7 separate regions of the Homo sapiens genome follow, and all the other regions are reported to be linked to region 1. Evidence: microRNA targets listed by miRTarBase, many of them from high-throughput screens and not tested one by one. Region 1 holds a microRNA gene; each other region holds the end of a gene's coding sequence.
What was found. The annotated mature microRNA hsa-miR-4716-5p reads UCCAUGUUUCCUUCCCCCUUCU and lies in region 1 at 2,840-2,861, opposite strand. An mRNA with a match to its seed (bases 2 to 7 or 8) in the 3' UTR can be bound and repressed. Matches are read on the target gene's strand: a 7mer-m8 pairs with bases 2 to 8, a 7mer-A1 pairs with bases 2 to 7 and ends in A, and an 8mer does both.

Region 2: the mRNA of ADAM22 is a reported target of hsa-miR-4716-5p. Seed matches in the 3' UTR shown: 8mer at 1,382-1,389 and 7mer-m8 at 4,283-4,289.
Region 3: the mRNA of BICC1 is a reported target of hsa-miR-4716-5p. Seed matches in the 3' UTR shown: 7mer-A1 at 2,649-2,655.
Region 4: miRTarBase lists OTUD6A as a target of hsa-miR-4716-5p. Seed matches in the 3' UTR shown: 7mer-m8 at 1,210-1,216.
Region 5: the mRNA of HARBI1 is a reported target of hsa-miR-4716-5p. Seed matches in the 3' UTR shown: 7mer-m8 at 3,201-3,207 and 7mer-m8 at 3,064-3,070.
Region 6: miRTarBase lists IRF2BP2 as a target of hsa-miR-4716-5p. Seed matches in the 3' UTR shown: 7mer-m8 at 803-809.
Region 7: the mRNA of PILRB is a reported target of hsa-miR-4716-5p. Seed matches in the 3' UTR shown: 7mer-A1 at 793-799.

Annotation. Positions count from the first base shown.
Region 1 is chr15:49,166,282-49,170,968 of GRCh38, forward strand. It overlaps MIR4716 (microRNA 4716), which reads right to left and starts at 2,872; the gene lies at 2,789-2,872. It overlaps GALK2 (galactokinase 2), which reads left to right and starts at 3,966. Exons shown (of 10, transcript NM_002044.4): 1 at 3,966-4,094. The coding sequence starts at 4,042. RefSeq lists enhancers at 3,378-4,282, 3,914-4,153.
Region 2 is chr7:88,195,338-88,200,024 of GRCh38, forward strand. It overlaps ADAM22 (ADAM metallopeptidase domain 22), which reads left to right. Exons shown (of 32, transcript NM_001324418.2): 32 at 1,134-4,687. The coding sequence ends at 1,154. Among named protein-coding and RNA genes, the nearest start is that of SRI-AS1, 19 kb to the right of the region's middle.
Region 3 is chr10:58,827,782-58,832,468 of GRCh38, forward strand. BICC1 (BicC family RNA binding protein 1) reads left to right here. Exons shown (of 21, transcript NM_001080512.3): 21 at 980-3,654. The coding sequence ends at 1,110. Among named protein-coding and RNA genes, the nearest start is that of LINC00844, 170 kb to the right of the region's middle.
Region 4 is chrX:70,062,627-70,067,313 of GRCh38, forward strand. OTUD6A (OTU deubiquitinase 6A) reads left to right here. Exons shown (of 1, transcript NM_207320.3): 1 at 1-1,553. The coding sequence ends at 765. Among named protein-coding and RNA genes, the nearest start is that of OTUD6A, 2.5 kb to the left of the region's middle.
Region 5 is chr11:46,599,981-46,603,980 of GRCh38, forward strand. It overlaps HARBI1 (harbinger transposase derived 1), which reads right to left. Exons shown (of 3, transcript NM_173811.4): 3 at 2,881-3,929. The coding sequence ends at 3,550. Among named protein-coding and RNA genes, the nearest start is that of AMBRA1, 8.0 kb to the left of the region's middle.
Region 6 is chr1:234,603,141-234,607,827 of GRCh38, reverse strand. It overlaps IRF2BP2 (interferon regulatory factor 2 binding protein 2), which reads left to right. Exons shown (of 2, transcript NM_182972.3): 2 at 1-3,559. The coding sequence ends at 691. Among named protein-coding and RNA genes, the nearest start is that of IRF2BP2, 4.7 kb to the left of the region's middle.
Region 7 is chr7:100,366,684-100,371,245 of GRCh38, forward strand. PILRB (paired immunoglobin like type 2 receptor beta) reads left to right here. Exons shown (of 4, transcript NM_178238.4): 4 at 666-1,148. The coding sequence ends at 694. It overlaps STAG3L5P-PVRIG2P-PILRB (STAG3L5P-PVRIG2P-PILRB readthrough), which reads left to right. Exons shown (of 17, transcript NR_036570.1): 17 at 666-1,148. Among named protein-coding and RNA genes, the nearest start is that of PILRA, 4.5 kb to the right of the region's middle. RefSeq lists enhancers at 32-111, 3,721-4,472.

The DNA of each region.
Region 1 (4,687 bases):
AACAATCTATGTTCGGTTAAAGCATTTTTGCACAATTTTTATTTCCTCCATAACTACATAAATATAGATTTCTCTGATTCATGAGTTTATCTTTTGCCATTTAATGATTATATACACTAGAGAGCAGTATCTATTTTATGAACAGAAGAATAAGGGGCCGGGTGCAGTAGCTCACGCCTGTAATCTCAGCACTTTGGGAGGCCGAGGCAGGTGGATGGCCTCAGTTCAGGAGTTTGAGACCAGCCTGGCCAACATGTTGAAACCCCATCTCTACTAAAAATACAAAAATTAAGTGGCAGGCACCTGTAATCCCAGCTACTCGGGAGGCTGAGGCAGGAGAATCACTTGAACCCGGAAGGCGGAGGTTGCAGTGAGCCGAGATCGCGCCATTGCACTCCAGCCTGGGCAACAAGAGCGAGACTTGGTCTCAACAACAACAACAAAAAAGAAGGAATGTAACATCATTATAAAGAAGACATAAACAAGTATTACATATTATTTACTATAATGAGAAAATATCCAAAATAGGTCACTGAAGTAGATTCTCCCAATTGTGAACAATAGTTTTTATTGTAAGTCAAAATAGGAAATATTTTCCAGAGGTTGCACAAACAGATTAAACCACAGAAATAACATTATTTCAGATAAATGGTCAATCCCTCTGTGGTCTTAGACATTTAGTTTTGGGTAGAGAACATGGAAAACTTCCTGAAGGAAGTGATTTCTAAGCTGAGAAACATCAATAGGCACTAGCCAGGTCTGTAAGTCTCTAACACCCATGCTTTAACTCATATTTTGGATCAAGTTTTTGTATTCTTTCATTTTAGTGTTTGTTTTGTTTTTGTTTAGTTTGCTATAATATTTTATCTGAATGGAGACTAATATCCTTTGAGGAGAAACAATTTCAAGTTTATTAATTAGGTTTCTGTTTAAGACTCCATCATAATATACCATTTATTAGTTTATAATTCAGATTCTAAACCTATTGTAAGAGTGCCTACTTGCAAAAAGCAAAGAACCAGAGGTTCAGGATTTGTGAAAATAAAAATACTGTAAAATATAAATGTTTAAATATTTTCTTTTCTTTTTTTTTGAGATGGAGTTTCGCTCTTGGTTGCCCAGGCTGGAGTGCAGTGGCGTGATTTTGGCTTACTCAATCTCCATCTCCTGGGTTCAAGCGATTCTCCCGCCTCAGCCTCCCAAGCTGCTGGGATTACAGGCGCCCGCCACCACACCTGGCTATATTTTTGTAGTTTTAGTAGAGATGGGGTTTCACCATGTTGGCCAGGCCGTTCTCGAACTCCTGACCTCAGGTGATCTGCCCACCTTGGCCTCCCAAAGTGCTGGGATTATAGGCATGAGCCACTGTGCCCAGCCAAATGTTTAAATGTTTTCACTATTAGATATGTCTAATAAGAACTAAAGGAATATCTTCTTGAAATTGAAAAGGAAATAATATTTTTCTATCCCATAAGGATTGTTGGAAAGGTTTAAAGAGACAATAATATACGCAAAGTGCTTACTTAGCAAGATGCCTAGTATAAGGAAGGTAGTATAAGAAAGTAATGTTTTGTTTTTGGTGTCCATTTGGGGTTCTCTAGTAGTTTGGACAGGTTATTTTAAGAGTAATCCTTTATGAAAATTATAATGTACACATTTTATTTTGGGACAAGGATTCTAATCATTTCAATAATTTATTTTTAAGCACAGTTTACTGGGGTCTCAACAAAAGTCACATATTCAGAAGTAGTATGGCCTCTAGGCTAGGAGTCTAGAGACCTAGGTTTTAGTTCTAGCTCTGTTAATCCTGTTTTACTTTGTGCCAATCATTTCAAAAAAGGATGCTTTACTAATTGCTCTGTAAGGTGCTTTCTAGTCTGCATCGGTTTTGTTGAGACTGCAATAGCAATGTATCCAAGGTCCAAACTAATGATTTGCCATCTGGTTTCATTTAGCAAAGTTAATGTTCGGTCATCAAGTACATATTCAGTAGGAAGTATTCTTTTTCGAAACAGTTTCTACAGTCATTTTTTTTTAACCCTGTATAAAATGAGTTTATTTTGGACTGTTAAAAAAATTCAAAACTTTAAAATTTGTTATTTTTCAACTAATGCAAAAGAATATATTAGAAACATCTGAATAAAAAATGATTCTGGGCTGGGCACGGTGGCTCACACCTTTAATCCCAGAATTTTGGAAGGCCGAGGTGGGCTGATCACCTGAGGTCAGGAGCTCGAGACCAGCCTGCCCAGCATGGTGAAACCCCGTCTTTACTAAAAATACAAAAATTAGCTGGTGTGGTGGCGGCTGCCTGTATTCCCAGCTACTTGGGAGGCTGAGACGGGAGAATCGTTTGAACCTGGGAGGTGGAGGTTGTAGTGAACAGAGATCATGCCATTGCACTCCAGCCTGGGCAACAAAGAGCGAAACTCCATCTAAAAAAAAAAAAAAAGATTCTGTTCTTTTCTGTATTTACTGATGTCCCTAAACATTTTACATTTTTTTTTAAAATTTAGGTTATCTCCCTATTAAAACTATTTACAAGTGACAGTGATGACTCCTGTTACTCAAAATTAAACCAAAATGAACATCAAACTGGGATTTATTGGGGCCCAGAAACAAGAAGATATAATTCATTCATTTGAAAATGATAAAGAGGGACTGAAATAATAGTGAGAAAGCTGCCCTGAGACCAGAGTAACTTTGTTTCTTTGATGTATCATTTACAGTAATAACCCAACGGGGTGCCAAGGGGCTGCCACTCTTTGGCTATGCTTTATTGTCCATTCACACTTTGTCTCCATGTTTCCTTCCCCCTTCCTCCTGTATACATGTATACAGAAGGGGGAAGGAAACATGGAGACAAAGTATGCATATACATATAGAAATTCTGGAGCAGTAACTTACTGATGTATACAACTTATCGAATCTCTCTGAGTTATGCTACTACCCCTAGTGTGTTGGGCATGTTGGCTCAAACTTCCTTAATCAGGAAACTTTGGAATGGGTTTATTGCTAGCTGTCTTTGCTTGGGTTTAATCTCAATATTTCTGAGGTGCAAAGTGCACTAGATTGAGAGTTAATAGATCTGAATTTTAATTCCAGTTTTGTTCCCAATGATCACTGTGACCTCAGGCACATCATTTCACCTTTCGTCGTTCATTCAGTTTATCTTACCTATTCATTAAAAACCAATCTGCCTGCCCCCAGTTGCTTTCTAGTGGTAGTGATGATGGAGGTGGTGAGAGACACAATAAATACATAAGCAAATAGGAGAACTATGAAGGAAGGAAAAGTTAGTGATGTACTAGGGATAGTGTACTTTTGATAGGGCATCTAGGATTTCTCTAGATAAGTGAAAAATGAAGAGGTTTAACTGGATGCTAAGGGGTCTTGCACATTAAAAGGCATGTGTTTCCGTCTTTTCACTACTGTGTTCTAGGAAGGCCCACCAATGCCTCTAACCTGTAAATAAATGCAAATCTATTTAAATCAAGTGATACATCAATTTTATGTTGCTTGATTTGGAAGTAATCCGCAAAGAAGCAATAGCTAAACATTTTAGTGTTGTTTGGGGAGTAGCTGCTGAACAATAAAGACCAAAACCATAACTAAAAAACAAACAAACAAACAAAAAAACGCAGCCCGAGACAGATCAGAAACTAGGTGTATGTAGGGCGCCAGGTTATGACACTGTTCTCTGACATCCACAGGGCGCAAAAAGAAAACCTCACTAGTCAGCTTCGCACGTGCTCTGCGCAGGGGCTCCTGCGAGGCCCTAGTCCCTCCCTGGGAGCTAAGAGCAGGACGGAGGCTGTACCTGACTGCTGCTTGGAGGGAACCCTGGCTGAGTCCAGGGAGGAGGAGCCAGAGGAGGGGCCGATTGGAAGCAGCCACCTCAGCGAAGCTGCAGGATTTCCGCAGGGCGGGAGCTGTTTATCTCCCGGAAGAAAACGGCTCCTGTCACAGAAGTCTCGTGATTGCTCTGGGAGCTTTGCTTAGACACTTGAAACTACAGGAGAAAGAAGGATCTAGCGAAATATGGCTACAGAGAGCCCTGCTACGCGTCGGGTCCAGGTGGCAGAACATCCTAGGTGGGGGAGAGGAGACGCCGGGCTTTGGGATCTGCTGGGTTGGCTACGTGTAGATCGGGTCCACAGCACTTGGCTCCTCCCTTGGGGCGCTGCTTTTGGTCCCGGGGAGCAAGTGGAACCCTTGGGATTCTATAAGGACACGTGGCTGGGCTTGCAAAAAAGATCACGCCGCAAACACATTCTACCTTGACTACTACGAAGGGTTGTATGTTTTTTTCTTCATCCATGCAGATTCTTCTTTTCCTTTTCTTGTTGTAATTAGTGTACTCTTTCTACTGGGCTTCAGCAGAAATGCCCATATCCACACTGAACTCCTCTCTTTGTCTCGCATGCCAGTTGATACTGCTTTTTAAAAGTCTTCTTTCTAAATATTAATTGAAAACAAACACAAAAACCTTCTTGGTGTCTGCATCCTCTTTAAAACAAAACAAAACAAAAACACGAGAATCTCTGAACTGTCACTTAGGGAATTAATTTGCTGGCAGTCCCTAGCTACACAGTAACTAATAGTTTAGTGATGTCTCGGGGAGGATCTTTTCAGTTACAGGTACTTTGTAGAAATACTTCGTTCTGACTAATGGGGCTGAGGTCTC
Region 2 (4,687 bases), not on the chromosome of region 1:
ATTAAGGTGATTGCTGAACATTGTAGAAATTTGACCGGAACAGGGCCAATATAAAGAGCTCATGGCAAAAGCAAGGAGAGGGTAAGAGGGACAGAATGAATGAAGGGACATCCTGCCTTGAATGTATCCTTCCACTGTGATACCTCAGCTTGTGAGAGAGAACCTTTTATTTATTTTATTTTATTTTATTTTATTTGAGATGGAGTCTCGCTCAGTCGCCCAGGCTATAGTGCAATGTCGCGATCTCGGCTCACTGCAAGCTCCGCCTCCCGGGTTCACGCCATTCTCCTGCCTCAGCCTCCCGAGTAGCTGGGACTACAGGTGCCCGCCACCACGCCCGGCTAATTTTTTTTGTATTTTTAGTAAAGACGGGGTTTCACCGTGTTATGCAGGATGGTCTCGATCTCCTGACCTCGTGATCTGCCCATCTCGGCCTCCCAAAGTGCTGGGATTACAGGCGTGAGCCACCACGCCCGGCTGAGAGAACTATTTTTTAAGGAGGTAGTGATAGAAGTGGAGTGTATGGCAGTGATTTTCAAGTGGGTGATGGTGGAATTGATGGAATCACACTTCCCTGATGTCAGTGGTTTTCTGTCGTGGCTGCACAAGGGAATCATCTGCAAAGCTTTTAAAATATTCTTACGCCTGAGTCCCACCCAGAGAGATTTTGATTTAGTTGGTCTGGTGTGGTGCCTGGGAAGTGGAATTGTAGAAACCTCCCCAGATTAATGTAATGTGCAGCTGAGGTTGAGAACCACTGCTCTAGCTGGCTGTCTCAGAATCCTGGGGAAAGGAAGGGCATGTGTAGCTTAAAAAATAATATTTTAAATTCTTTTATTTCATTTGAGACACAATATTGACTCTATTCAAAATGTTTAGTAACATTAAATGAGGATGTGATGGTTTTTGTATCAAAAGATGGCTGCTGTTAAAAAGGTTGAGACACAGGTTTTGAGGAAACAGAGAGCTAAAAGTTGGAGTGTTTATTCTATCCACTTTTTAGACTTTGCAAGAGTGTGCATCCACAATCACATATATATGGATGGAATCACTGAATCTTTTTCATCTCCTATTCAGAATACATCTGCTTCCTGCTTTCACAATGTGCAATTTTGCTCTTTTCTGTTGTGCAGCTATGGGAGACATCCATTTAAGATCAACTGTTTACATGTGATACATCGAAAACTGTTTACTTCAACTTTTATAGAAACCCAGGCTCATGGAATCACTGCAAATCTATCTGCTCTTCAGACAATACGAAGACCCTCTGAGATGCTACAGAGGAGAGGAAGCGGAGTTTCACATCTGGTTACCATTTTCTTTTTGTCATTGGCTTAGGATTTAACTAACCATGAAAAGAACTACTGAAATATTACACTATAACATGGAACAATAAAGGTACTGGTATGTTAATGGATAATCCGCATGACAGATAATATGTAGAAATATTCATAAAGTTAACTCACATGACCCAAATGTAGCAAGTTTCCTAAGGTACAATAGTGGATTCAGAACTTGACGTTCTGAGGCACATCCTCACTGTAAACAGTAATGCTATATGCATGAAGCTTCTGTTTATTGTTTTCCATATTTAAGGAAACAACATCCCATAATAGAAATGAGCATGCAGGGCTAAGGCATATAGGATTTTTCTGCAGGACTTTAAAGCTTTGAAAGGCCAATATCCCATAGGCTAACTTTAAACATGTATTTTTATTTTTGTTTTGTTTTTTACTTTTCATATTTATATTAGCATACAAGGACAATTGTATATATGTAACATTTTTAAAATTTTAAAAAAATGCAGCTGTTACACACAAGTGTATTTTGCCAAATGCCTAAAAATTCCGTCACAATCACATCATCGTCATCCATCCAGTGATCTTCAAAGACTATAAGCAGGTAATGTAAATATAGTGGTCAATGCTGTAAATGTGTCTCTCCATAATTCGTATTTGTCCAAAACATGTGATATCCCTTTAACCTGTGCACAGTCTGGAGGCAGTTTTATTGAGTGAGTAGTTGAGTGAGAGAACAAAATGCCCAGCAAAACTTCTGGCCTCCACAGTTTGCTGATGCAGGAGCCCACTCTGCTGCCGATGGGCTGCTCCCTGGAAATCATCTATCCCATCCGTCCATCCCATCTCATCCCAGTGAGCCAGCCCCTCAGCAGTGTGTGCTGCTGAGATTAAGCAAGTGCACCAAAGACACATGAGACAACGTACTGCCAGTGAGCTGGTAGCTTCTGGTTTGCCAATACTCTAACCCTTTGTGGCCTGAAGTTTTGTTCCTTGGCAAAACTTTGTAGTCACCCTTATCTGTGAAATGAATGACTTGTTTTAACAAAAACAACTTTGACACTGTTGATTAAGAATATTTGTCATCACTGGGATGTGAATCCCAACAAGTCATTCTGCACTGACTCTGAAGCAAGATGACGGAAGATTCTACTGTTTGAGTTGAGCAGCTTCAACCATTCATAAAGGGTTAAGTTAGATCTAAACCACAGAGATGCAGCATCTGCGAAGTTACACTAACAGCTGGTGGGGGAAAGAATCTGATGCTTTGAAACATATATTTTTAATCCATAGGAAAATAAGATTCTATTTTAAAAGACCCTTCTTTAAAACCAAAGTTTGATAGCTGTTATAATGGCAGATCTGTCATTCCAAAAGAAAGCTAGCTACCCTAGTGAGGCTGGAGATTGATGGGCTCAATCACATGGTCTGCTCTGAAGTATACTTCTGATTTCCTCATTTGCTGTGTGTTCTTAAGAGGAATGGAATCTGCAGACAGGTTTTCAGATATACTCTCTTAAATTTGATCCTCTCCCATAGTATCCATGGACAAAATCCATATCATCTTCATATGTAATCAATTTGATTACATATCATGCCCAAACTGAAGGGCCGAGTTAGAAGGCAGCATTTTATACTGTGTGTTTATGTCTTCTGTAATGGACCTCTCTTTTGAAAGTCTTTGAAATGTTTGGAAAGCAATTTAATGATCCAAAATTACATAATGTAAAACAGCATTTTTCATGACAGGAAGGGATGTGATTGTTGATATGACCATAAAGCGATCCATCAGGCCAAGGTTTGGGTGAGTGTTGGGCAGTGTTGCCACATAGCTCAAGCCAAGAACAGAAGGGCAGACAGATTGAAAGATGTAGCAAATAAAGTGACTTTTTACCAAGATCACTGTAACGTGCACTGAATGTTTCCTGGTACTGAGTGTACAAAAGGCTAATGCTATAAGGTTTATTTTGACTATAAAAGAGTTTATAGATTTGAATATAAGGTGCCTCATGTAAATATGCTTCCTAGTTACAGGTACACAAACTCTAATTTGAAAGAATCCACAAATGGCTAGCTGAGAAGTTAACAGATCTCTATCATTCGTCTGTGTGTCTTTCTTCCCTCACCTATTTTTACATGAAATTATTATTTCAAATGAAAATCATGATCATGTGCCTTTTGGGAGACATGGTTTCTCTAGAGGTATATAGTTTGTAATTACCCGCCTTGGTAATAACCTTCCTGTGGAACTGACTAAAAATTTTTGTTTTATTTGTAGAGATTATGATTTGAGGTATACAGTAACTTTAATGTTCTATTCTTGGAATCTACTCTATCTCCCATGTTTAAACATTCTTAGAGCCATTTGTGGGATTCATTGACAAATTTATAGTCTCAAGGGAGAGTTTCAAGAAGTATCTATATGTATACTCATGGTTGGGGTTCTAGAGGCATTACATCTAAATATTTATGACTTTTCATCCACCGAGGTAGGTAGCATTAAATATACAAGCACAGCATTATTTCTCTTTAAATATCTATTTTGGAGAGAAACTTTGAGGCCGTATCACAGTTTATATCATGCAACTAATATTTATATTTCCCAATCCACTACAAAATCATTGCTAAGCAGAAGAGAGCAGTTATTTGGCCTTTATGTTCCATTGTATGCCTTTTTCCCCTCTTCCAGTTTTATGCATTGATAAGACTACAGATTGGCACCCTGCTGCCTGAGAAGTTCCATTTATCCATAGTCATTGCAGTGCAGTAAACCCTGATTTAAAGGAACATTTAAGTCTCTCCAGTAAGTGTGAACAGGAAGGCATGGGATAGAAGAGAGTCCTTATGGAGTGGACTGGCCACATGAACTGTCCTCCAGCCACTCTTTATTTAGATGGGAAGTGGCATGGTCCTCTGAACGCTGCAGGCTGGAAATGATCCCCAGGGCACATGCAATCTGTGGAAAGGAATACATCGGACAGTGCAACATGGTGAGGGCTTTCAATTTGCTGTGGTTGCTGTATTTTTAACAAGACACCCGGAGCTTCGATTAGGAATAACCTATCATTAGAGTTGTTCCTTTAAAAAATGTTGATGAATAAAGCAAATGTGGGTTTAAAATGCCAACTTATTTTTCACTTTGATATTGGTGCTTTATTAAGTGATACCATAGTTTCTCTCTCTTTTCCCTGTTACTTTAAAAAGAATTTTAAAATTGTGTTTGTATATAAGGTCAGTCTGGCATAGAATTTCTGAAAGTAACATTAATAGGATTTCTAAAGAAGTTGTCAGAAAGACAAAATTGGATATTCTCTGCACTTTCAGAGAAGGACTATTTATGTTTGAATTTCATAACAGGCTTACATTTCTTTTCTATTGATTCCCTTGCA
Region 3 (4,687 bases), not on the chromosome of region 1:
AAATTATGATGTATTTTTGTAAAGTTACACCAAATGTGCCTGCCTCTCCTTCCACCACCACTACCTATTGAGCCTCTACTATGCCTGAAACAGCAAGAGCAACCCCTTCTCCTCCTCCTTCTCAACCTACTCAACGTGAAGACAACAGGGATGAAGACTTTCTGATGATTCACTTGCACTTAATGAATAAGTAAATATATTTTCTCTTCCTAATGATTATCTTAGTATTTTCTCTGGCTGAGTTTATTGTAAACATGTAGTATAAAATACATATAACATACAGAACATGTGTTAATCAACTTACTGGTAAGGCTGCTGGGCAACAGTAGGCCGTTAGTAAAGTTTTGGGGGAGTCAAAAGTTATACATGGATTTTTGACTACATGGGAGCAGGAGGGGTTTGGTACCTCAACCTCTGCATTATTCAAGGGTCAGCTGTTCTTCAGGGTGCTCCTCCAATATCCCTGTGCTTAGGTATGGGGTCTTCTTTTTCATATCTGACTTTAATAAAACTAAATGATTGCCATGTTTGACATGAATGAGTTCAGTAGCTGTAATAATTTTCTGTGCCATCAGTCATACGTCCTTTCACGAGCTTAGCTTGTTCTCCTTGCCTCTGAAATGACCTTTGGAGTAGGTCAAACTATTTAATTTGGTTAGAGCGTTCTGAGAATGGTATATCCTCCAATACAGTTTACAAACTATAATAGAAACTGTTTGCTGTCAGGAGTTTATGAGTTGCAACAAAAACTATTTGCTGTCCTTTGTTCTCTAGACTATCAATATGCTATCTTTAATACCATACTTTCTAGTATTTCAGAAATGCCTTGACCATCAACTAAAAGTTTTCCTTTTGATACCAGACTTGACTTTCCTCAAAAAACCTACCACGTCACCATTTTCTGAGCTCTAGTGCCATGTCCTGTAGTATACATAGAACTTCTCTTGAGCTCCTAACAATTCTCTCTTTCTCTCTCTAGAACTAAATAAAAACCGAAGAAAGCTTTTTGAATCGCCAAATGCACGCACCTCTTTCCTGGAAGGTGGAGCGAGTGGAAGGCTACCCCGTCAGTATCACTCAGACATTGCTAGTGTCAGTGGCCGCTGGTAGCAGCACCCTCTTGGCACATGCCCGCTGACTAACTGTAAAGTGGACACAGGAGATGTATGAACAGCCTTCACAGCACACCATCCTTAGCACTCTGGGTGTCTGGTATCAGGACCAAAGCATTTTATTCGCACCTGTACTTTATGGCAAAAAGGAAGAAGAGAGAGAAGATGTTCTTATGATGTCATACAGAACACCAAATATGGATTACTTTTTTAAAATGGCAGTTGGACAGAATTTGCAATATAAGGATAGGGCTTTATTTCCTGTTTTTATTTACCTATATAACATATGCACTGATGATTTTTTTTTTTTTTTTTTTTTTTTTTTTTTTACTTAAAATGAAGGATGAATTGACATCTGGGATGCCAGAAGACTTAGAAGTTATTTTGTTTGCTTGTTTTGTTTGGGTATTTGGGGATTTTTAAAAAATAATCAAAGTGGAATTTTCTGGTACTGCTTTAAAATAATTATTGTGGTCTTTCAGCACTTTACACGTTCTAATTTCTTGTCCTATGGAAGTTCTCGCTGTCTCCATCTCTCTCATTTTTGTGTCACCTAATATGTTGGTACAGATAAGAGTTAGTCACATTTTTCTGACTGCATCAAACTTTTATTTGAAATGGTACTGGATCTTAGTTTCTGTGCAGAATATTCTGTGATTTTGGGAAATGTAAGTGAGTCCACTTGCTTCTGGACCAATTCTGTTTCATGTATGTTAGCATCCTAGAAACACCTAGCAATGGACCTAGTTCACAGTAATAGGTGCAAAGAAAGACCAAATGGACTTTGCAGTATTAACCCTTTGCAGTCGTCATACTTAGCTGCTGCCTGTAATGCTAAAATGATTTTAATGGTTGTCTGGAGGCAAAGGGCTGTTTTTTAGTATATTGCCACTAAAGGACATTTATTTATATCAAACTTTTATTTTTAGATATTATAAGCATACAGTACATAATTGATGAAATTGATATTTACTAGAGATTTATGGTAGAGAATGGACGACATTCAATAACTGGAGCCCGAGATTGTCACTTTATTTAAAAAGACAAATAATCATCTGACAAGACAGCACTGTTGCCATTATAAGGAGAAATAGATTACAATCCTTATCATGTACACGTTAGCTATGTTCCGTATGGCCACAGGACTTTCCTGAAACCGTATCTGTCTGCTTGAAGTAGACTTATGTTTGTTGAGAATGAACAGGCTTATTTGAGCCTCCAGGGTGGCAGTTCATAAAGACAGCTAAGTTCTGAAGGAAAAAAAAAATATATCTTTTTAAGTGGCTAGAGTCATTATTACAATCTTATACTGTGAAAGTCCAAGAAATCAGGCAACATTGTTTCCTGGGTCTTTTCAGAGATCTTATAGATTTATGAAGTGTTTTTAATCCATGAAGAAACACTAAAGTGCCTTTCTTTCTTCAAAGCAATATTATTTCCAAGTATATTAATTTGTTAGAAAACTTTCCCATAGGAAATGTTGTCAAGTTACCTGTACTGTAAAGAGTTATTTATGTTCAGTAGTCAAGATTTTCTACATGGACATAAACCACTCTCACGTGCTCTCAGCAGAAGGCATTAGATAAGCATATACAAGAATTGGGTACTTTTATACAAATATGGGATAAGAAATACTTGCCTGACACTTTTCCATGGCTGAGTCTGACCATTACAGTAAGAACAAGAATTGAAGAGGCATTTTGCACACAGAAACATTCTCACTTTAAAAAATGGTATTGGTTACCTTGAAGGCATAGATAATGGGCCTGTCATAAAATTATCAATTATAACTGGCACCGAGGGACTGCCCTTTTTAAGCTAAACTAAGCCTTATCTGCTTAAGGATGTTGAACTGAATCACTCCCTTTACTCATCCTGTGCATATGTGTACAAATGGTCATGTGGATCATGTGATGATCATCCATCTTATTTGATTGTATTAATGCATCATGCTAAACATGTAGTACAGGTTAACAATACCAGATTTATGTCCTGTTCAACAACTCAGTACTCTAAATGTTGTTATGCTTTTAATAAGACCTTCCCAGATAATAATCTTGGAGCTCTTTTCCCAGCTGTCTACCATGCATTTGCAACAGGAGGAAGATGTAATGAATATGCAGTATTAAGTTGATTTATGAACAGTGCTTTGATATGCCAAAGGGAAAACTGTCCCACTTAAATTAGATTAAGTAGGGTGGCTAAAAATAAATAAAAACACTGGAAATTCTTTCTCTCACTTTCTCTTGATGCAATGAAGGGAATATGACACTACAGTATACAGAGTTGTTGTTATATGATGCACAAAATATTTTGATGATTTGAATAAATGTTAACTTTTAATCTGCGCCTTAATAATGACTGGTTATCTGTAAATATAGAACAGATACAGATTGTATTTTTCTGTGGGTTTTTGTCCTTTTAGTGATTTTTTTCCAAAAACGAGAGATGGAATTAACATTGAAAATGGGAAATTTTTCTAACTGAATCAATTGTTACATGAAAAATAAATTTATATAACCCCTTTGTATTGCTCTTGCTATATGAAGCGTGTCTTTTTTTAAAAGAAAATCTTTATGCATAAACTCTATGCCTGTCTTTGTTTTCTAAGAAATTTTTTTTTTTTTTTTTTTTTTGCCATTTTTGGCAAAGTTGAAAGATGTTTCTTCAGTAGAATTGAATATGCATTCTGTGTTCTCTTGTTTTGCATTGACATTCCTCATTTTCAACCAGAAACTAAAGCACTTTATTTTAGGCAGTGAATGCAGGACCAGTCATCAATCATTGTTTCTTTGGCCACCCATAGGTACATACAAAAGAGTACCATTATAGAACAGGTTTTATTCTTGTTATTTCTTTCTTTTATAAAGACTCAAGTGTATGACCGCTTTGACAACCTCATTTATCAGCAAAGAATGACGTGATACTGGGCTTTTTGATCCAGGTTCCCCTTTCAGAGACTGCCATTGTGTTATCTATCACACTGTGTGTTTACCATGCCATGCACTGAGATGCTCACTGGACTCATGCTAAATGGAATGGACGCTCTTACTTATTCTGAGATTTTGCTAAATCTTAAAGAAAACCTAGCCCTCCACATACTATGCCCCCAGGAATATTTCCACTTGAATTATCTATGCCAGTGGTTCTTAAACATTGTTTCTAAAACAAAAATTCTTTTGATAATTGGAATCTTACCTGTGACCCAATATTAAATTATTCATTTATTATTTATTTGGTTCATTATATACATATTAATGACACATAAATAGTGTCAGGCTCTGGTCTAGGAACAGTAGTGAATAAAACAAAACCCCTTGCCCTCCTTGAACTTGAATTCTAAACAGAGAAAGGTGGCGCTAAAGAGGGAGAGGTTGGAGGATGGAATATCCCCACCCTTCATGTGGGCCTCCATATGTTTACCACACTCCAAGGGAACTCGAGAGAGCTCTCTAGAAACCTGTTTTTAACAAAACTGTTAAAAGTGGCTGGGCATAGTGGCTCATGCCTGTAATTCAGCACTCTGGTAGGCTGAGGCAGGCAGAGCACATGAGGTCAGGGGTTCAAGACCAGCC
Region 4 (4,687 bases), not on the chromosome of region 1:
AAGACCGACAAGACGAAAAGAAAGCAGTTGCTCCAAGACGTGGCCCGCATGGAGGCCGAGATGGCTCAGAAGCACCGGCAGGAGCTGGAGAAGTTCCAAGACGACAGTAGCATTGAATCTGTCGTCGAAGACCTGGCCAAGATGAATCTGGAAAACCGGCCTCCCCGCTCCTCCAAAGCCCACAGAAAGAGAGAAAGAATGGAGTCCGAGGAGAGGGAGCGCCAGGAGAGCATCTTCCAGGCTGAGATGTCGGAGCACCTGGCCGGCTTCAAGCGCGAGGAGGAGGAGAAGCTCGCCGCCATCCTGGGAGCCAGGGGTCTGGAGATGAAAGCGATCCCGGCCGACGGCCACTGCATGTACCGCGCCATCCAAGACCAGCTGGTGTTCAGCGTGTCTGTGGAGATGCTGCGCTGCCGCACCGCCAGCTACATGAAGAAGCACGTCGACGAGTTCCTGCCCTTCTTCAGCAACCCCGAGACCAGCGACTCCTTCGGCTACGACGACTTCATGATCTACTGCGACAACATCGTGCGCACCACGGCATGGGGAGGCCAGCTGGAGCTGAGGGCCCTGTCGCACGTCCTGAAGACCCCCATCGAGGTGATCCAGGCCGACTCGCCCACCTTGATCATCGGGGAGGAGTACGTCAAGAAGCCGATCATCCTGGTCTACCTGCGCTATGCCTACAGCCTCGGCGAGCACTACAACTCCGTGACACCGCTCGAGGCCGGCGCCGCCGGGGGCGTGCTCCCGCGTCTCCTGTAGGCCCCAAGGCGCTGAGCAGCCCCGGGAAACTGTCGCCGTCGCCGCATCTCCTCAGTAGGCTCAGTTTATTTTCCCCTTTTGCTTTTCTCTGTTTTTCTTTTCCTTCCTTTTAATCAAAACTACCCGCCCCCGCCCCGCCCCCGCTTTCCTAACCTTGCTGCTTTCACAGGGTGGGAAACGAAATTCGAGGGAAATTCCCCGGAAATATGAGGGAAATCTCTGCATTGCACCACCAGAGGGGCATAAATTTGAAAGTTCTAACCTCTTCTTGCCCTTAAGGGTCTTTTACCTCCCTCACCAACTAAGATTTGGTCATGTTGCGTATAACTTCACCACAAAAATGGAAATATTGGCCGGGCGCGGTGGCTCACGCCTGTAATCCCAGCACTTTGGGAGGCCGAGGCGGGCGGATCACGAGGTCAGGAGTTCGAGACCAGCCTGGCCAACATGGTGAAACCCCACCTCTACAAAAAATACAAAAATTAGCCGGGCGTGGTGGCAGGCACCTGTAGTCCCAGATACTCGGGAGGCTAAGGCAGGAGAATCGCTTGACGGGAAGCGGAGGTTGCAGTGAGCCGAGATCGTGCCTTTGCACTCCAGCGTGGAAGACAGTGAGACTCCGTCTCAAAAAAATGAAAAATTAGCCAGGCAGGTTGGCGGGGGCCTGTAATCCTAGCTACTTGGGGTGCTGAGGCAGGAGAATCAACTGAACCCGGGAGGCGGAGGCTGCAGTGGGCCGGGATCGTACTACTGCACTCCAGCATGGAAGACAGCGAGACTCCGTCTCCAAAAAAAAAAAAAGAAAAAAAGGAAATGTTAAGTTTCATGTGTTCTGGGAAAAATAAATCTAGTAGACTAGCTCGGGGAGTCTTCAGGTTTTCCTATGAATGTCTTGGATTACTTAGACAAAATTGGAGTTTATGTGATCAAAATGCCTTGTGAAGGCCTTTTGCTGAGTTTTGGGGGGAAAGATTGCCATGGTTTGCTATTTACTTAAGCTAGACTACTCAGGAGATGTCTCAAGTTATGAACAAGAGATCCGCTAGTACTTTGTTTTGTTTTCTTTTCATCAAAACTTGTGTGGTTCCTAATTAATTTTAGTTTCTCCCATGTTTGCTAATTCTAAATAACAGCATTTGTTAAAACATGTAAGGTAAATCTGTTAAATAGATAAAGTAAATTTAGATAAACTGATAGGCTAGATAAGGTTTACTCTAAGATGTGAAAGATCTGAACTTAATTTCCTTTACTAAAGGTAGGAAGAGATAGGACTTTATTCAAATAGTTGATACGTTTCATTATCTTTACAACTGGTATAAAGAAAAAAGAGACACATTGATAGGTAATTTACTTACTCTAAGGGGTGAAGATCTGAATCGAGTAAGTTTCCTTTATTCTTAGAGATATAAAGGTGTATGAATTTATTCAAGTACTTGATTGACCTTGTTATATCATCTGGTATGAAGTGTGAAAGATATGAATGTAACAACTTTCCTTATTTCTTAGAGATACAGAAATATCTAAAAAGATTCTTTAAAATATTAAAGTTTTATTCTATTTTGTTACATCAAAAGTGAACAATATACTTTTGTTATTTGAGACTTGTTAATATCCTTGAATTTTCCAAAAGAATATAAAATGAAATGATTTACAGTCAACAACTTATGAAAATTTTAATCTTTACTTTCTGTAATTCAGTGAGATTAATTTTGGAAATTCTTTCTACATTCCAAATGCTCTAAGATAAAATATATATGTTTTTGAAAGTTTTTAAACATGTAGTTTGTTCAAAAATAAAAACCATTTAAAAAATACCTGCTTCTCTGTTTTTGTGTAGCTAACTTCATATAGAGTTTATATCCCAGGATCTACTTAAGCAAAGGAATCCTGGAGGGTTAGGGAGCATAGGCCTGTTGCGGGTGGCGGGGTGGTGGTTGCTGACTGGGGACAGGGGCAAAGACTGCTGAAGGGCTCTAGAAATGGGAAAGGTGCTCTACTTCAGTGGGCTGCATAGGGTCAGGGAAGGGGGTGACAAGCTAAAAGAAGAGGCCTGGCTAGGGTAGGGGACCTTCATGGACAAAGAGGCCCAGCTGGGTAGCGGGGGCACAGGCTAGGAAAGAAGTCCTGGCTGAGGGAGGATGCCTGCAAAGGGTCCAGGCTGGAGGCTGGGGCATGGACTGGTGAAGGGTTCCTGGTAGGAGAAGGTGGCCCAGCTGGGGCAGGCTGGAGAAGGAGAGGAAGGGGGCCTGGCTTGGGAAGGGAAGCTGTTTGGGAACTGGGCTACAGTCTGGGGAAGGGGTCCTGGCAGGGGTGGAGTTGGGTGGAGAGAAGGGCAGGAAAGGGGGCTGGGTCAAGAAAGAGTCACTGTCTATACAAGGAGGAATAGGCTGACCAGGGGGCAACTCAAAGGGACAAGATGCCTCGTAGCAACGGGTCTTTGGCTATTGAATGGGGAAATGGCTCTGGCAAACTGCCTGGCCAGGGGAATTGAAGGGAATTGGGAAATTGGGCCTGGATAGGGAAGGGAGCCTCACTGGGGAGGGCACACAGGCTGAAGAAGTGCCATATGGTGTGGAGGGGTCATTGAAGAAGGAAGCCTGGCTGGGATGGGGGGAGGGGGGACCTGGCTGCAAGGGTGGGGGAATGCTGGCTGGGAAAGGTGGCCCGGCTGATGATGCAGGCTTAGGTGACCAAAGGGGCCAAGCATGGGAGTGGCCTTGGCAGGGCAAGGAGGAAGATCTTGGGGAAGAGGTAACAGGCTAGGGAGGCACTGGCAGAGGAAGGGGACAAGGCTGGGCAAGGGAACCTGGCTGTGGACTGGGACACGGGGTGGGGAAGGAAGCCTGGCTGGGAGGGACATAATAGGGTGAGCGGGGGTGGGGGGAGCAGGTTAGGGAAGAACTGGCTGGTCAAGGGAAGGAGGCCCAGTTGAGTTAGGAGCCAAAGGATGAGAAAGGTGTTCCTAGCTGTTAATGAGAGGAAAGGCTGGGGAAGAACGCCTGGCCGGCGGAGGGGACATGGGCTGTCCAGTGGAGTCCAGGCTGGAGAAGGCACTGGACCAGGGAAGGAGATCTAGCAGGAAAGTAAGCATAAGCTGGGGAGGAGGACATAGACTCGGGGAGAAGGACATAGATTGGCGGAGAGGGCGAGACTGAGGAAGGGTCCCAGACATGGGGATGTGCCTGTCTTGTAAAGGGACCACAGTCTTGAGAGGCTGGCACAATCTATGGAAGACAGATGGGTGTGGGGTAGGGAGGATTGTGGGGTAAAAAGACCCCTTAGGGAAAGGTTGCCTAACTGGAGAGCGACTCTGACAGCGGAAGGGGCTGGGGAGGGAGGCACAGACTAGGAAAGGGAACCTGGTGGTGGGAAAGGTTTGAATACCGAGAAGGACATAGGCTAGAGATGGGATCATAGGCAGGTTAGTGGGCCCGGCTGGGAGAGGGGGCCTACCAGGTGGAGAGAGCTTGCTAGGAAAGAAATCATGCCTGGGAATGAGGGCCTCTCCCCCTGACAGGAACTTGGCTGAGGAAGGGCACGTGGTTGAGAAAACGGGCTTAGTTGTAGAGGGGCACACAGGATAGGAATGGGGTCTGGCTGGGGTAGGGGCAATAGGCTGGACAAGGGGCCTAGGCAGGCGAAGGCTGTGGAAGGAGGCCTGCCTGGAAAAAGGAGCACAGACTGGGGCAGAGGGCACGTTGGGTGAGGAGAGCTTGGCTGCAGGAGGGGCATGGCTAGGAACCCTTTCCTAGCCGGGGAAGCAGACTTGGCTTAGCACGGGGCACATGTGGGTGAAGGGATCCTGGTGGGAAAGATTGCATGGCTGGGGAGGCCACTGGGTAGGTGAGGGAGAGCTGAGAGAAGATGCCTGACTGCGGAAGGAGGTGCTGGCTGGGAAAGGCCAGCAAAGGGGCAACTCCTT
Region 5 (4,000 bases), not on the chromosome of region 1:
TTTGGGCTATTTTCCGTTTGTTTCAGATACAGATAAAATCTTATTATATCTATGATCTGTCTAGCCTCTTTCACCGTTACCCACTTCTTCTATGTCTTCACTACATGACTCCACTAAAATTGTGTCTTGTTTTTTATCCCTAAGTTAGATTAACTTGGTCTAGATCCTTCACAGTCCTAGGATCAGGAAAACAGCTTCATCCCTATTCAGTTAACTTAAACCAAGAATATGTTTATGGTCCCTCTTTTGTATAATCTGGAATTGGTAAATTGGTGATCACCCAATATTGTTTTCCCTTGATATATCCTGAGACCTTACTGCCTTGAAACATCTAAGGGTAAATCTGGAAAACTACTATGCTGGCCAGATGGAGTTATCTATGGGAAAATGAGGCTTACGTAAGACAGACAAAATCCTTGACTCTTTCCCAAAACCATGCCAGAAAAAAGCTATAAATCCACACTAAGGACCACAAAGGGAGCAGCTTTCTCAGACGCTTATAAAAAGCCCCTGTGAGGACACCCTTGGCAATTTGGAAGTACAGACCCTGATCCTTCCCCTCCATCATTTTGGGGAAATAACTAACCAATGACAAAAGAAAAAAAAAAATCCTGGCCTGCAAAACCACAGGTTGAAAGGAGGTTAAAGGTGTAGATCTGAAGAGTTTCCCTGTGGGATTATTAGAAAATAAAATGCTCCCAGGGAAAAACACTGTCAGCCAATGTTCAGCCAGCTCAGCACTTAGATTATCTTTGGTGTGCAAGTAAACAGACTTGAAATTGCTTTTGAAATCTCTCCAAGACTGTCCATCCCACTCAGTCTTTTATGTCACCATCTAGTGAGTTAAGTTGTGAAAAACTCCAATTTTCCTTAAATATAGTTATACAAGGCTAAAATGCAAGGCATTTTCCATGATCACACTTCACCTTGCCACTTATGATACATGTTGGGCAGTAACCCTTTCCTGATGCGATCTACCAAACAGAACCAAAACTTTATGGGGAAAATACCCATCTTAGAAGACTTAAAAAGGAAAGACCTTAAGAATTAAAACATTGCCTTATGAGGGAAACAAGTTGAACTTTACAAAGAAAAAAATGTTAACCGGGCACCTCTGTTGCACAATGAATAGAGTTAATGTTTCTAGCCAACTCTTCGTTGTCCATTCCCACCTCAATGACATCCCTGTGCATATTAAGCACAATCTTCTGCCAAATGGACCCACTCTTTATAGAGCAGGATAATGATGGTGAATAGCATTTGGAGTAGAAATAAAACAGCAGATAATAATCCATAATTGTTTTTAATCTTGAGGATGAGTCACCCTCAATTTATTTCCAAATTTCTTCTGTCATCAGCTGTTCATTTCTTTACTTTGAAAATCACCAGATTAACACTGCCAAAGGCAAGAGGTAGGAAATGATCCAAGAGGACAAGTCAGAGGTATCACATGGTGAGTGGCTGAGAAACTGGAACAAGACAACCCTCAGGAAAGTCTCTTTTTTGTCCCAGCAAAGGCACCAATGTGTGAACCTAATTCACACTTTCATTATTCTAATCAGGTTATTTTTATATCAGTGTAATTTTAGAACAAGACTTGCTAGGGGATTATTTATTTCTTAGGAAATTCTGTCCATCACTCTGCATATCCAAGGTCTAGCACCAGAATTCATTTCAAGCCAAGAAATTATATTCCTATTACCTCTCCTTTGTAATACTTTCACATGCCTTCTTTATTCCCTGAATCTTCCTTTTGTACAACGAATTTCAAAACAGAATGACCAGACTTTCTAACATCACAATTATAAGAAATGTGATCTAGTTGAATGTGAGGTGTCTGAACCTGGGTGAATCTGCATTGCTCATCAATCTCTCTCAGTCCTTAGAACGCCTGTAAAGCATAAGCTTGCTATTTTATCTATATTCGAATTGCCTTTTTTAAGCTGATTGGGTTCTCAAACCCATTTAGCCTCTAACTCCGAGTCAGGGTTGGAAATAGGAAACTGGAGTCCAGATGTTCTCCCTAGGATCTAGGTCCAAGTCACAGTCCAATTATTGCAGACAGGCTAAAGATGGAGGTTTCTGACTGTCTTTAACATCCTCTTAAAAGCACAAAGCTGCAAACTGAGATTAGTAGCCATTTACTAATGTCAGAAGATCATTCCCCAACTGAAATTCTCTCTTCACATTTGCCTCAGATTATGCCTATATAGGCAGCAAAGTAGAAAAACTAAAATACCACCCAAATAATCCAGAACAAGTAAATATTGTTTTCTTTCTTTTTTTTTTTTGAGACAGAGTCTCGCTCGGTTGCCCAGGCTGGAGTGCGATGGCACAATCTCGGCTCGCTGCAACCTCTGCTTCCTGTGTTCAAGTGATTCTCCTGCCTCAGCCTCCTGAGTAGCTGGGATTACAGGCGCGTGCCACCACGCCCGGATAATTTTTGTATTTTTTAGTAGAGACGGGGTTTCACCATGTTGCTCAGGCTTGGTCAGGCTGGTGTCGAACTCCCGACCTCAGGTGATCTGCCCACCTCGGCCTCCCAACGTGCTGGGATTATGGGATTATAGGCGTAAGCCACCACACCCGGCCTATGTAAATACTGTTTTCATCTGAAATCTGCAGATAATTGAAACCAAAAAAGTGTTTTGACTATATGCTGTTTTCCCCTTTACTATGAGTTTTTTTTTTGTTTGTTTGTTTGTTTTTTTGGAGAAAGCCTTGCTCTGTCACTCAGGCTGGAGTGCAGTGGCATGATCTTGGCTCAGTGCAACCTCCGACTCCCAGGTTCAAGCGATTCTCCTGCCTCAGCATCCCGAGTAGCTGGGATTTCAGGCATGTACCACCACGCCCGGCTAATTTTTTTTTTTTTTTTTTTTTGAGACGGAGTTTCGCTCTTCTTGCCTAGGCTGGAGTGCAATGGCACGATCTCGGCTCACCACAACCTCCGCCTCCCTGGTTCAAGTGATTCTCCTGCCTCAGCCTACCGAGTAGCTGGGATTACAGGCACCTGTCACCACGCCCAGCTAATTTTTTTGTATTTTTAGTAGAGACAGGGTCTTGCCATGTTGCCCAGGCTGGTCTTAACTCCTGAACTCAGGTGATCCGCCCGCCTCGGCCTCCCAAAGTGCTGGGATTACAGGCGTGAGCCACCGCACCCGGCCGCTAATTTTTGTATTTTTAGTAGAGACGGGGTTTCACCATGTTGGCCAGGCTGGTCTTGTCTTGAACTCCTGACCTTTACTATGACTTTGTAGGCACAGTCATAAATGTTTGCAACCACTGAGCTTTCAAATTAGTGGTACTCAACCTAGAGTTCACTGGATAGTAGGGAGCCGCTGTCTTGGTTTCAGTTTAATTAATGCATATGCAAATGAATCAAGATATTCTGGCATAGCCCCAACCTTACCAAAACACACATATTAAATGTCAGTTTATGACAAGTATCTGTATACTCAGTCATGCTAGATGATGGAACTGTGTAAAAGGTGATGAGGAGGAAAGTCTGTCACAACTCCTGGGAAGTATCCCTCCTCTCCACCTTCTACATTAGCTAAAATGAGTGAGCATTAGCTCCTGACGAATACGGTCAGCCTCTAAGTCCAGGGACTCCATGTGCTCATACTCCTCTTCCGGGGGCTGTTCCATGGGTCCTGTCATTGGAGAGGACCAAACATCCATCCCATGCTCCAGGGAGATGTTGTGGAGGACACAACAGGCCAAGATGATATGGCTGGATTTCTCTGGTGAGTACTGCAGTGCCCCCTTGGATCCATCCAGGCAGCGGAATCGGGAGCAGAGGGTTCGGAAAGTCTTCTCAATCACACTGTGAGTTGCAGAATGGGCCATGTTATAGCGATATTCTGCTGGAGTTTCAGGAATGTGAAGTGGGGTCATGAGCCAGGTTCGAAGAAAGAAGGAACTGTCACCTGTGGGGAAGGCCCAAATAAATCATAAATGACTATAAGTGGAATAGAAACAGGAAGTGAAATTCAGAAAA
Region 6 (4,687 bases), not on the chromosome of region 1:
GCCCTCTCCAGAACCAGAAGGTGAAGTCGGGCCCCCTAAGATCAACGGAGAGGCCCAGCCGTGGCTGTCCACATCCACAGAGGGGCTCAAGATCCCCATGACTCCTACATCCTCTTTTGTGTCTCCGCCACCACCCACTGCCTCACCTCATTCCAACCGGACCACACCGCCTGAAGCGGCCCAGAATGGCCAGTCCCCCATGGCAGCCCTGATCTTAGTAGCAGACAATGCAGGGGGCAGTCATGCCTCAAAAGATGCCAACCAGGTTCACTCCACTACCAGGAGGAATAGCAACAGTCCGCCCTCTCCGTCCTCTATGAACCAAAGAAGGCTGGGCCCCAGAGAGGTGGGGGGCCAGGGAGCAGGCAACACAGGAGGACTGGAGCCAGTGCACCCTGCCAGCCTCCCGGACTCCTCTCTGGCAACCAGTGCCCCGCTGTGCTGCACCCTCTGCCACGAGCGGCTGGAGGACACCCATTTTGTGCAGTGCCCGTCCGTCCCTTCGCACAAGTTCTGCTTCCCTTGCTCCAGACAAAGCATCAAACAGCAGGGAGCTAGTGGAGAGGTCTATTGTCCCAGTGGGGAAAAATGCCCTCTTGTGGGCTCCAATGTCCCCTGGGCCTTTATGCAAGGGGAAATTGCAACCATCCTTGCTGGAGATGTGAAAGTGAAAAAAGAGAGAGACTCGTGACTTTTCCGGTTTCAGAAAAACCCAATGATTACCCTTAATTAAAACTGCTTGAATTGTATATATATCTCCATATATATATATATCCAAGACAAGGGAAATGTAGACTTCATAAACATGGCTGTATAATTTTGATTTTTTTTGAATACATTGTGTTTCTATATTTTTTTTGACGACAAAAGGTATGTACTTATAAAGACATTTTTTTCTTTTGTTAACGTTATTAGCATATCTTTGTGCTTTATTATCCTGGTGACAGTTACCGTTCTATGTAGGCTGTGACTTGCGCTGCTTTTTTAGAGCACTTGGCAAATCAGAAATGCTTCTAGCTGTATTTGTATGCACTTATTTTAAAAAGAAAAAAAAAGCCAAATACATTTTCTGACATTGTAAGATTGCCTTACTGTCTGTCATTCCTTATTGCTGGCCCCTTTCTCAGGCCGGAGGCCAAGTGGTGGAGAAGGAAAGGAAATGATCGAACGGGCATGTTGTCAAGTGGGCATGCCACTGGGAAATACCACCAGTTTACCCTGAAACATTGTCCTCAGAGGAGTAGGAAAGTGGATTTTGAATCTCTATTTTGCTCAAAAGTTCAGTTCCTGAGATACTGATGACTGAGAGTGCTGCTGGGAAATTTTCAGGATTGTGTGGTCTTTTGGGGTTTTTTGTTTTTTTTTTTTTAAGACAAAGTTGACCGCTGTTCACTGTCCACGTGATCAGTTGTAAGATTACAATGCTGCATGCTAGTTGGTTACATAAGATACAATTCCAGTGATGGAAGGCGGTTATAATGGATGGTGGTGTGTACAAGATGGCACTGCCATCTTTGAGCAGAGCCCAGCTCTGCAGCGCCACTTCATCTTTTTAAACACCCTAGAGGTCTGTTTGTTGTTGCTGTTGTCCTTTATTTTGAAAGAGTTGCAAGAGAAGTTACAGTCCAGGTGAACTTGGAGATTGTGGGATTGGTTTTGTTTCTGTTTTGTTTTGTTTATCATTTACCTGTAGTGCTATTGCTGTTGATACTATCACCTATACCCTGTTTCTAGTGAGTGCTGAATACAGTATGGTACAATGACAGTAACAGCCGCGTGGTGCTGCCAGGACTGCCCTTGGGCATATCAGTGACAGCCCAAATGTGGGTGGAGGAAACCTGTAATTTCCTTCTTAACATGTGTTTGAAATACCAAGTGAATAATACTGTTCTGGAAAAAAATGATAAACTAGTGGAAATTAAAGAAATTAAGGGTTTTATATAATAGACAGGCCCCACCTCTCAAAATATTTTTAGAAGTCTTTTTGTAAACTAATTTCTTTTGATCACTATTTTGCATCAGTAAAATGATTTTTTTAAAACCAATAAATCATCAATTATTAGAAATAGTTGTCTCACAGTGATACTGGTTTTTCTTTTGTGCTGTTATGATTTAACATTGACAGGAACACTATTTTAAATCCTTACGTTCAGGTGTTTGTAACTTGGCCTTATAATTAGGCTGAATTATGGCTTCAAGGTCTACAATTTATGTGTATGGTTCACAGCCTAGCTTCTATTTACATTTGAAAATACAGATTTTTACCAACTTTGGATTCTTTTTTAGTTATATGTTTGTCTTTCCTTTTTAAATTGTTCAAAACTATTTTTTAATGGTCAAGTTACTAACACTTGAAAATCAGATACTGCACCAAATACAGTGTTTTTCCGTAGTGTTTTTAATGAGTGCACCTATTACTACTGTGCGAGAATTCATGTTTTACCAGTCATTGTTATATTACAAACAGACTTGCATGATTAACCAGTTGTTACACTTACTTTTTCAAGTTGGAGTATATATGACTCAGTGCAGACTGGTCTCTCTTATGTGAATGCACACATGCAGAAATGCAGAGTCAATTTTACATGCCCATAAAGACATTTGTAAAGAATTCAGCTCTTATGGTCTGTTGTATAAATGTGTATCTAGGCACTTTGGAATTTGACCTCACAGATGTTACAACTTGATCAGTCGTTTGACCTAATTTGTGGTAGCTATCTGTATGTTTTGCAATCTTAATACAGACATGCTTTCCAAAAAGATTAATACAGAACCATCCTGCCGTTTTGGATAAGTCTATCCAGCTGTGGAAAGGGCAACCTGTGGTTTCTCTGTACTGGTGTTTAATGGGGGAAGAATATGAACAGCTTTAAAGAGCTGTGTATTGTGGTTACTACTATTAAAAAATAAGATCTGCACGAGTCTGACTGGCCTTTGGGTGGCCTTTGTGGACGGCTCGTAGCTGGAAAGTGTTGATCTGGGTTTTCTGGCATTCTTTTAAGTTAAAAAGTTAACATCGGGACATGGGTTTGATCTTTTGTTGTACCTGATGACAGTGCAGAGATTCTCCACAGCTGGATAAAAATGTCACAAAGCTACTTACTGTACATGGGCAGTATCAGATTTCAAATCCTAATATTTCAGCTGTGCTTTTAATACTCAAAATATTAGGGGATGGGGTGTTGAAGCTTTCCCTTTTTTGCTTTTAACAATTTATAGAATTTAACAGATGTACTGTCTTTCATGTGGCCTCACATTTAAAGTTATGAGAACATACACATGGTTTACAACTTTTACTATATACCTTTCCTTGGCCACCAAGTATTTTAAAAGTGTGCCACCTTTTAACCTTTACTTTTTTTAAGTTGAAGGTGATACTTTTTCTATATATGATGAAACTCATGTCAACTGAAGTGAGTGTAATCTCAGATACCAACATTATTATATTTTAAAATCACGCTATGGAAATATCACCTGAATTCTGTCATTTGTCAGATTTACAGTACCTTTTTTTCTTTAACTTTTAGCATTAAATAAAAATAAAATTGGGAGCACTGAACATTTTCTGAGGCCTTTTTTAATTTTCTAAAGCAAGCTTAGAATGGCTATTGTTTTAATCACTAATGGCAATGTGACTAAAGGATGTGTGGGTTTGGGGTTGGGGTTTGCCTGAACTTCAGGAGATAAAAGACATGGAACAAAAAGGCAACTGATGGTATAAAATAGAAGTGCCAGGGACTGCGGAAAGGGCAACTGGATAGGGGACACAGATAAAAGAGCTGAACAAAGTACGGCTAGAAAGCATTTGTTTATTTTTCAACTAGCAGCAGAACCAGCCATTCTGCAATGGTAGATTGGAAAGAGAAGATAGTGACGACACTGGAAAGACTCTCAAGACCTGGAGCTGCTCTTTGAAAAGCTTTGGAATAAAACAGCTACGTTGGGCCATAGGAAATGCGCTAAAGACAAAAGGGATTTAAAAAAAAAAAAAGCCTTATACTTTGGAAAGCTTAGGAATGAAAAAAGCCAAAGCCATGTATGAGCTTTATTGATATCCTGAAACTTAAATTTATAAATAGAGATAAAAGGTAGAAAGCACTGAGACACATTTTACTGGCTACTCTCATATAATAAGAAATTTCCTAGATGTTGCAGCTTTTACTCTTTTTATTGATTAATGGCTTGGCAGACTTCTCTATGAAAGGAAGTTGTGAAACTCATAAAGAGTTGGAGGCTAGGATATACATAGAGTTACTATATGTTTTAAATTAAACAGCAACAGTGAATGTGTACTTGAATATATTTACACTAGGGTGGTCTGGTAACTAGGAGGGGCCCATCACTATATATATTTTAATAGTTTTTCATTATTAGTCCATTTAAGGTTTTCAAGAAACCATATTCTTAGCAAGTTACAGATGATAAACAATTTTTCATGTAATAACTAGGTTAAAAGAAATAGGATGAACTATGTTTTTGTAACAAAAATGCTAAATTTTATTTTTAGTGAAATTGAAAATAGTGCAGCTTGTAGAAGTAATTCTCAACATTTCAAAACCTCTTCCCAAAGATATACTTTAATGACTGCATTTCGTTTTCAGTTAAGAAAACAAACCAGACTCTTGATGTGGCAGATGTCTTTGTTTATTCCCCAAAGGGGAGTTGGGGGAGAGTTAAAAGGAAACTA
Region 7 (4,562 bases), not on the chromosome of region 1:
GAAGGAAACCACAGGCGCGGTCTCCCTGAGGACCTGGAGGGAGAGGTGGGGGTGCCTATGTCAAGGGAAGGGGAGGGAAGGAAGAGATGGGTGGGCGAGGGCTCAGCGATAGAGGGAGCCAGGTTGGGGCTGAGCAGAGAGCTCAAGAGCGAAGGAAGCCAACAGAGGGTAGCAAGGTTTTGCGGGGGCGGTTTCAGGAGATGACGTGGTGGACAACAGGGAGAACAGGTCGGGGGGGAGCCTCAGGGTGCCAGCTGAGTCCCAGGCCCTTCCTGATGGGTTTGGGCAGAGCTGATCTGCTGCTCTGGTCCCTCTAAGGAGGGCCTCAGCCTAGGGCGCAGCAGAGAAGGTGGGATGGAGACTGCTATCACCTGGATGCCACCCTGACTCACTGTTGGTCCCCCTACACGTCAGCAGCGGACTAAAGCCACAACCCCAGCCAGCTGAGTGCTGGGCCTCCCCAAGGGAGTGGGGAGTACAGGTGCGGGCAGGGGACGGGTTTGGAAATCAGGGACTGTGCTGCTAAGAACCCCACAAGCCCAGCCTGCCACAAATTCTCCTGAGTTTTTGCCACCTCCCACTTAAATCTGATCTCTGAAGCAACTGCCTCGCCTGCCTCACTAATAATCCTGGCCCTGCATCTAAAAACACTTCCCCTCCTGCAGGTAGCAGGGCGCCAAGCAGTGACTTCTGACCAACAGAGTGTGGGGAGAAGGGATGTGTATTAGCCCCGGAGGACGTGATGTGAGACCCGCTTGTGAGTCCTCCACACTCGTTCCCCATTGGCAAGATACATGGAGAGCACCCTGAGGACCTTTAAAAGGCAAAGCCGCAAGGCAGAAGGAGGCTGGGTCCCTGAATCACCGACTGGAGGAGAGTTACCTACAAGAGCCTTCATCCAGGAGCATCCACACTGCAATGATATAGGAATGAGGTCTGAACTCCACTGAATTAAACCACTGGCATTTGGGGGCTGTTTATTATAGCAGTGCAAAGAGTTCCTTTATCCTCCCCAAGGATGGAAAAATACAATTTATTTTGCTTACCATACACCCCTTTTCTCCTCGTCCACATTTTCCAATCTGTATGGTGGCTGTCTTCTATGGCAGAAGGTTTTGGGGAATAAATAGCGTGAAATGCTGCTGACACTTCCCTGTGCATCTCCCACATGGCTGCCAAGTGCCCCTTCCTGCTCTGCAGTACCTGAGTCCAGTCATGATGCAGGGAGCCTCCCCACTAGAAACAGATGGCACTCACAGATTTAAAGCAGTTGGAAGCAAGTTTAAGAAGGGAAATCTTTTTTTTTTTTTTTTTTTTTTTTTGAGACAGAGCCTCACTCTCATCACCCAGGCTGGAGTGCAGTGGCGCAATCTCTGCTCACTGCAACCTCTGCCTCCTGGGTTCAAGCCATTCTCATGCCTCAGCCTCCCAAGTAGTTGGGATTACAGGCGTGCACCCCCACACTCAGCTAATGTTTGTATTTTTTAGTGGTACTGGAGTTTCACCAAGTTGTCCAGGCTGGTCTCAAACTCCTGGGCTCAAGCAATCCTCCAGCCTCAGTCTCCCAAATAGCTGCAATTACAGGCGTGAGCCACCATGCCTGGCTGAGAGGGAATCGTTAAGAAGGAGTGGGCAGGGGCAAGAACACTGTCAGAGACAGTGTGTTGGCCACGGCTACTACAGCAAATTGGCTGCTTCCTGTGATCGCACGGGTTGAGGGCTCAGTTCCACAAGGCTGCCCCAGCATCAGATGCCAGTCGCAAGCTCACGTGGTGCCTGTGCTTCTGACACAGGGCTATAAAAATTGAGGTTCCCATGATCCCCTCCTTGGGTTCAATTAATTTTCTAGAATGGTACCTAGAACTCAGGGAAGCCCTTTACTTACATGTGTCCCCTTATAAAGGATATTATAGGGCCTGGCGCCATGGCTCATGCCTGTAATCTCTGTGCTTCAGGAGGTTGAGGGGGGAGGTTCACTTGAGCACAGGAGTTTGAGACCAACCTGGGCAACATAGCGAGACCCCGTCTCAAAATAAAGATATAGGATATTACAAAGGATAGTTATGAACAGCCAGATATAAGAGATACACAGAGGGAGGCCTGGGGGAAGGGGTGCAAAGCTTCCGTGTCTTCTCTAGGCACTGCACCCTCTAGGAAGCTCCATGAGTTCAGTTATCCAGAAGCCCTCTGCATCCCTTTTGGGTTTTTATGGGCTTCATTATAAAGGCATGATTGGGCCAGGCACAGTGGCTCATGACTGTAATCCCAGCACATTTTGAGGCTGAGGTGGGAGAATCAATTGAGCCCTCAGGTGGCAACTGAGGCTGCAGTGAGTTGTGATTGCACCACTGTACTCCAGCCTGGGTGACAGAGAGAGAGCCTGTCTCAAAAAAAAAAGACAAAACAAAAAACCTGGCCAATACGGTGAAACCCCATCTCTACTGAAAATGATCGTCACCTGATCCCCACCCCTTGAAGATGCCTCCACCCTCTCCATACGCATTTGGTCAGCACTAACTGCCCTGGGTGACAGGCACACTGCACTGGGTGACAAGGACCCAAAGCTACACCAGCCAGTGCCCCAGCCCTCAAGCACCTCCCTGTGCAGAAGGAAGACAACACAGAAAAGGGAAGCATGGTTGTCACAGAGGCCCAGAGGACTGCTGGCTGATGTCACTGAATGGGGAAGTGGTTGGCCGCACAGGCCCCAAGCTCAGACCTGATGCCACAGTGGACGTTCCTGGGCCATGTGACCTCAGGCTAGGCTCAGAACCACCCTCAGGGCCTCCGTTTCTTTCTGTATAAATTGAGGACCATACAGAGATGCTGCCTACCTCCTGGGATTGTCCAGAGAGTTAAAAGCTCTTTTAAAATGCGCCTGCTGGGCCAGGCACAGTGTCTCACACCTGTAATCCCAGCACTTTGGGAGGCTGAGGCAGGCAGATCACAAGGTCAGGAGGTCGAGACCAGCCTGAACAACATAGCAAAGCTCCATCTCTACTAAAAATACAAAAAGTAGCCGGGCGGGCATGGTGGCACGTGCCTGTAATCCCAGCTACTCAGGAGGCTGAGGCAGGAGAATCACTTGAACTCAGGAAGTGGAAGTTGCAGTGAGCCGAGATTGTACCATTGCACTCCAGCCTGGGTGACAGAGCGAGACTCCGTCTCAAAAAATAAAAATAAATCAAATGCACCTGCTGGCAGGGCGCGGTGGTTCATGCCTGTAATCTCAGCAACTTTGGGAGGCCTAGGCAGGTGGATCACCTGAGGTAAGGAGTTCAAGACCAGCCTGGCCAACATGGTGAAACCCCATCTCTGCTAAAACTACAAAAATTAGGTGAGCATAGTGGTGGGCACCTGTAGTCCCAGTTACTCGGGAGGCTGAGGCAGGAGAATCGCTTGAACCTGGGAGGCAGAGGTTGCAGTGAGCCGAGATGGTGCCACTGCACTGCAGCCTGGGCGACAGAGTGAGACTCCGTCTCAAAATAATAATAATAATAAAACAAAATGCACCTGCCATTTCTTTCCATCAGGTATGGCCATGGAAATGAGGGTCATAAGGGAAGCAGTGTATCCTCACAGATCCCCAGAAACGAGAGACACAGCCATGCAGGGCCACTTGGGAAAGCACCAGGGTCCCTCAGGGAGTAGAGGAAGCCAAGGGAACACAGGGGTGAGACCCTTTGTTATGCTTTCCCTGGAAAAGGCAAGGAAGGGTATGCAGGTTTAGGATTGGCTAGTTAGAATAACGTTAGCAGGCTCTGGGGATTAGAGGCTGTCATTTGTTATTTGGTGTCTGGCCCAGGATGATGAAGGCAGAGAAATACTGCCTTCTGAAGGGTGAGAGGCAGCTAGAAGAGCTGGTTCAGTGTTGGGGCCCTGGATTAGCTGGTTTGCATATGAAAGGCACACTCAGCCAGGAGCCGTGGCTCAAGCCTGTAATCCCAGCACTTTGGGAGGCCGAGGTGGGCAGATCACAAGGTCAGGAGATGGAGACCATCTTGGCCAACGTGGTGAAACCCCGTCTCTATTAAAAATACAAAAATTAGTTGGGCATGGTGGCACGCACTTGTAATCCCAGCAACTTGGGAGGCTGAGGCAGGAGAATCGCTTGAACCCAGGGGTGGAGGTTGCAGTGAGCCGAGACCGTGCCACTGCACTCCAGCCTGGCAGCAGAGTGAGACTGTTTCAGAAAAAAAAAGGGACACTCTCAGAGGGGTCATTTGCTAGCTCTAACAACTGGCTGGCTCTGGCAGGGGCAGTCCCTCTCTCTGCTCTTGGAGGTCCAAGATGCCAGAATATCAGCAATCCAGTGGGGCTTGGTGAGGTGGCTCACACCTGTCATCCCAGCACTGAGGGAGGCCGAGGCAGGAGGATTGCTTAAGCCCAGGAACTTGAGACCAGCCTAGACAACATAGTGAGACCCCATCTCTCAAAAAAAAAAAAAAATTAGCCGTGTGTGGTGGTGTGTGCCTGTGGTCTTCACTACTTGGGAGGCTGAGGTCAGCAAATTGCTTCAGCCCAGGAGTGATGGTGATCGCGTCCCTACACTCCAGTCTGTG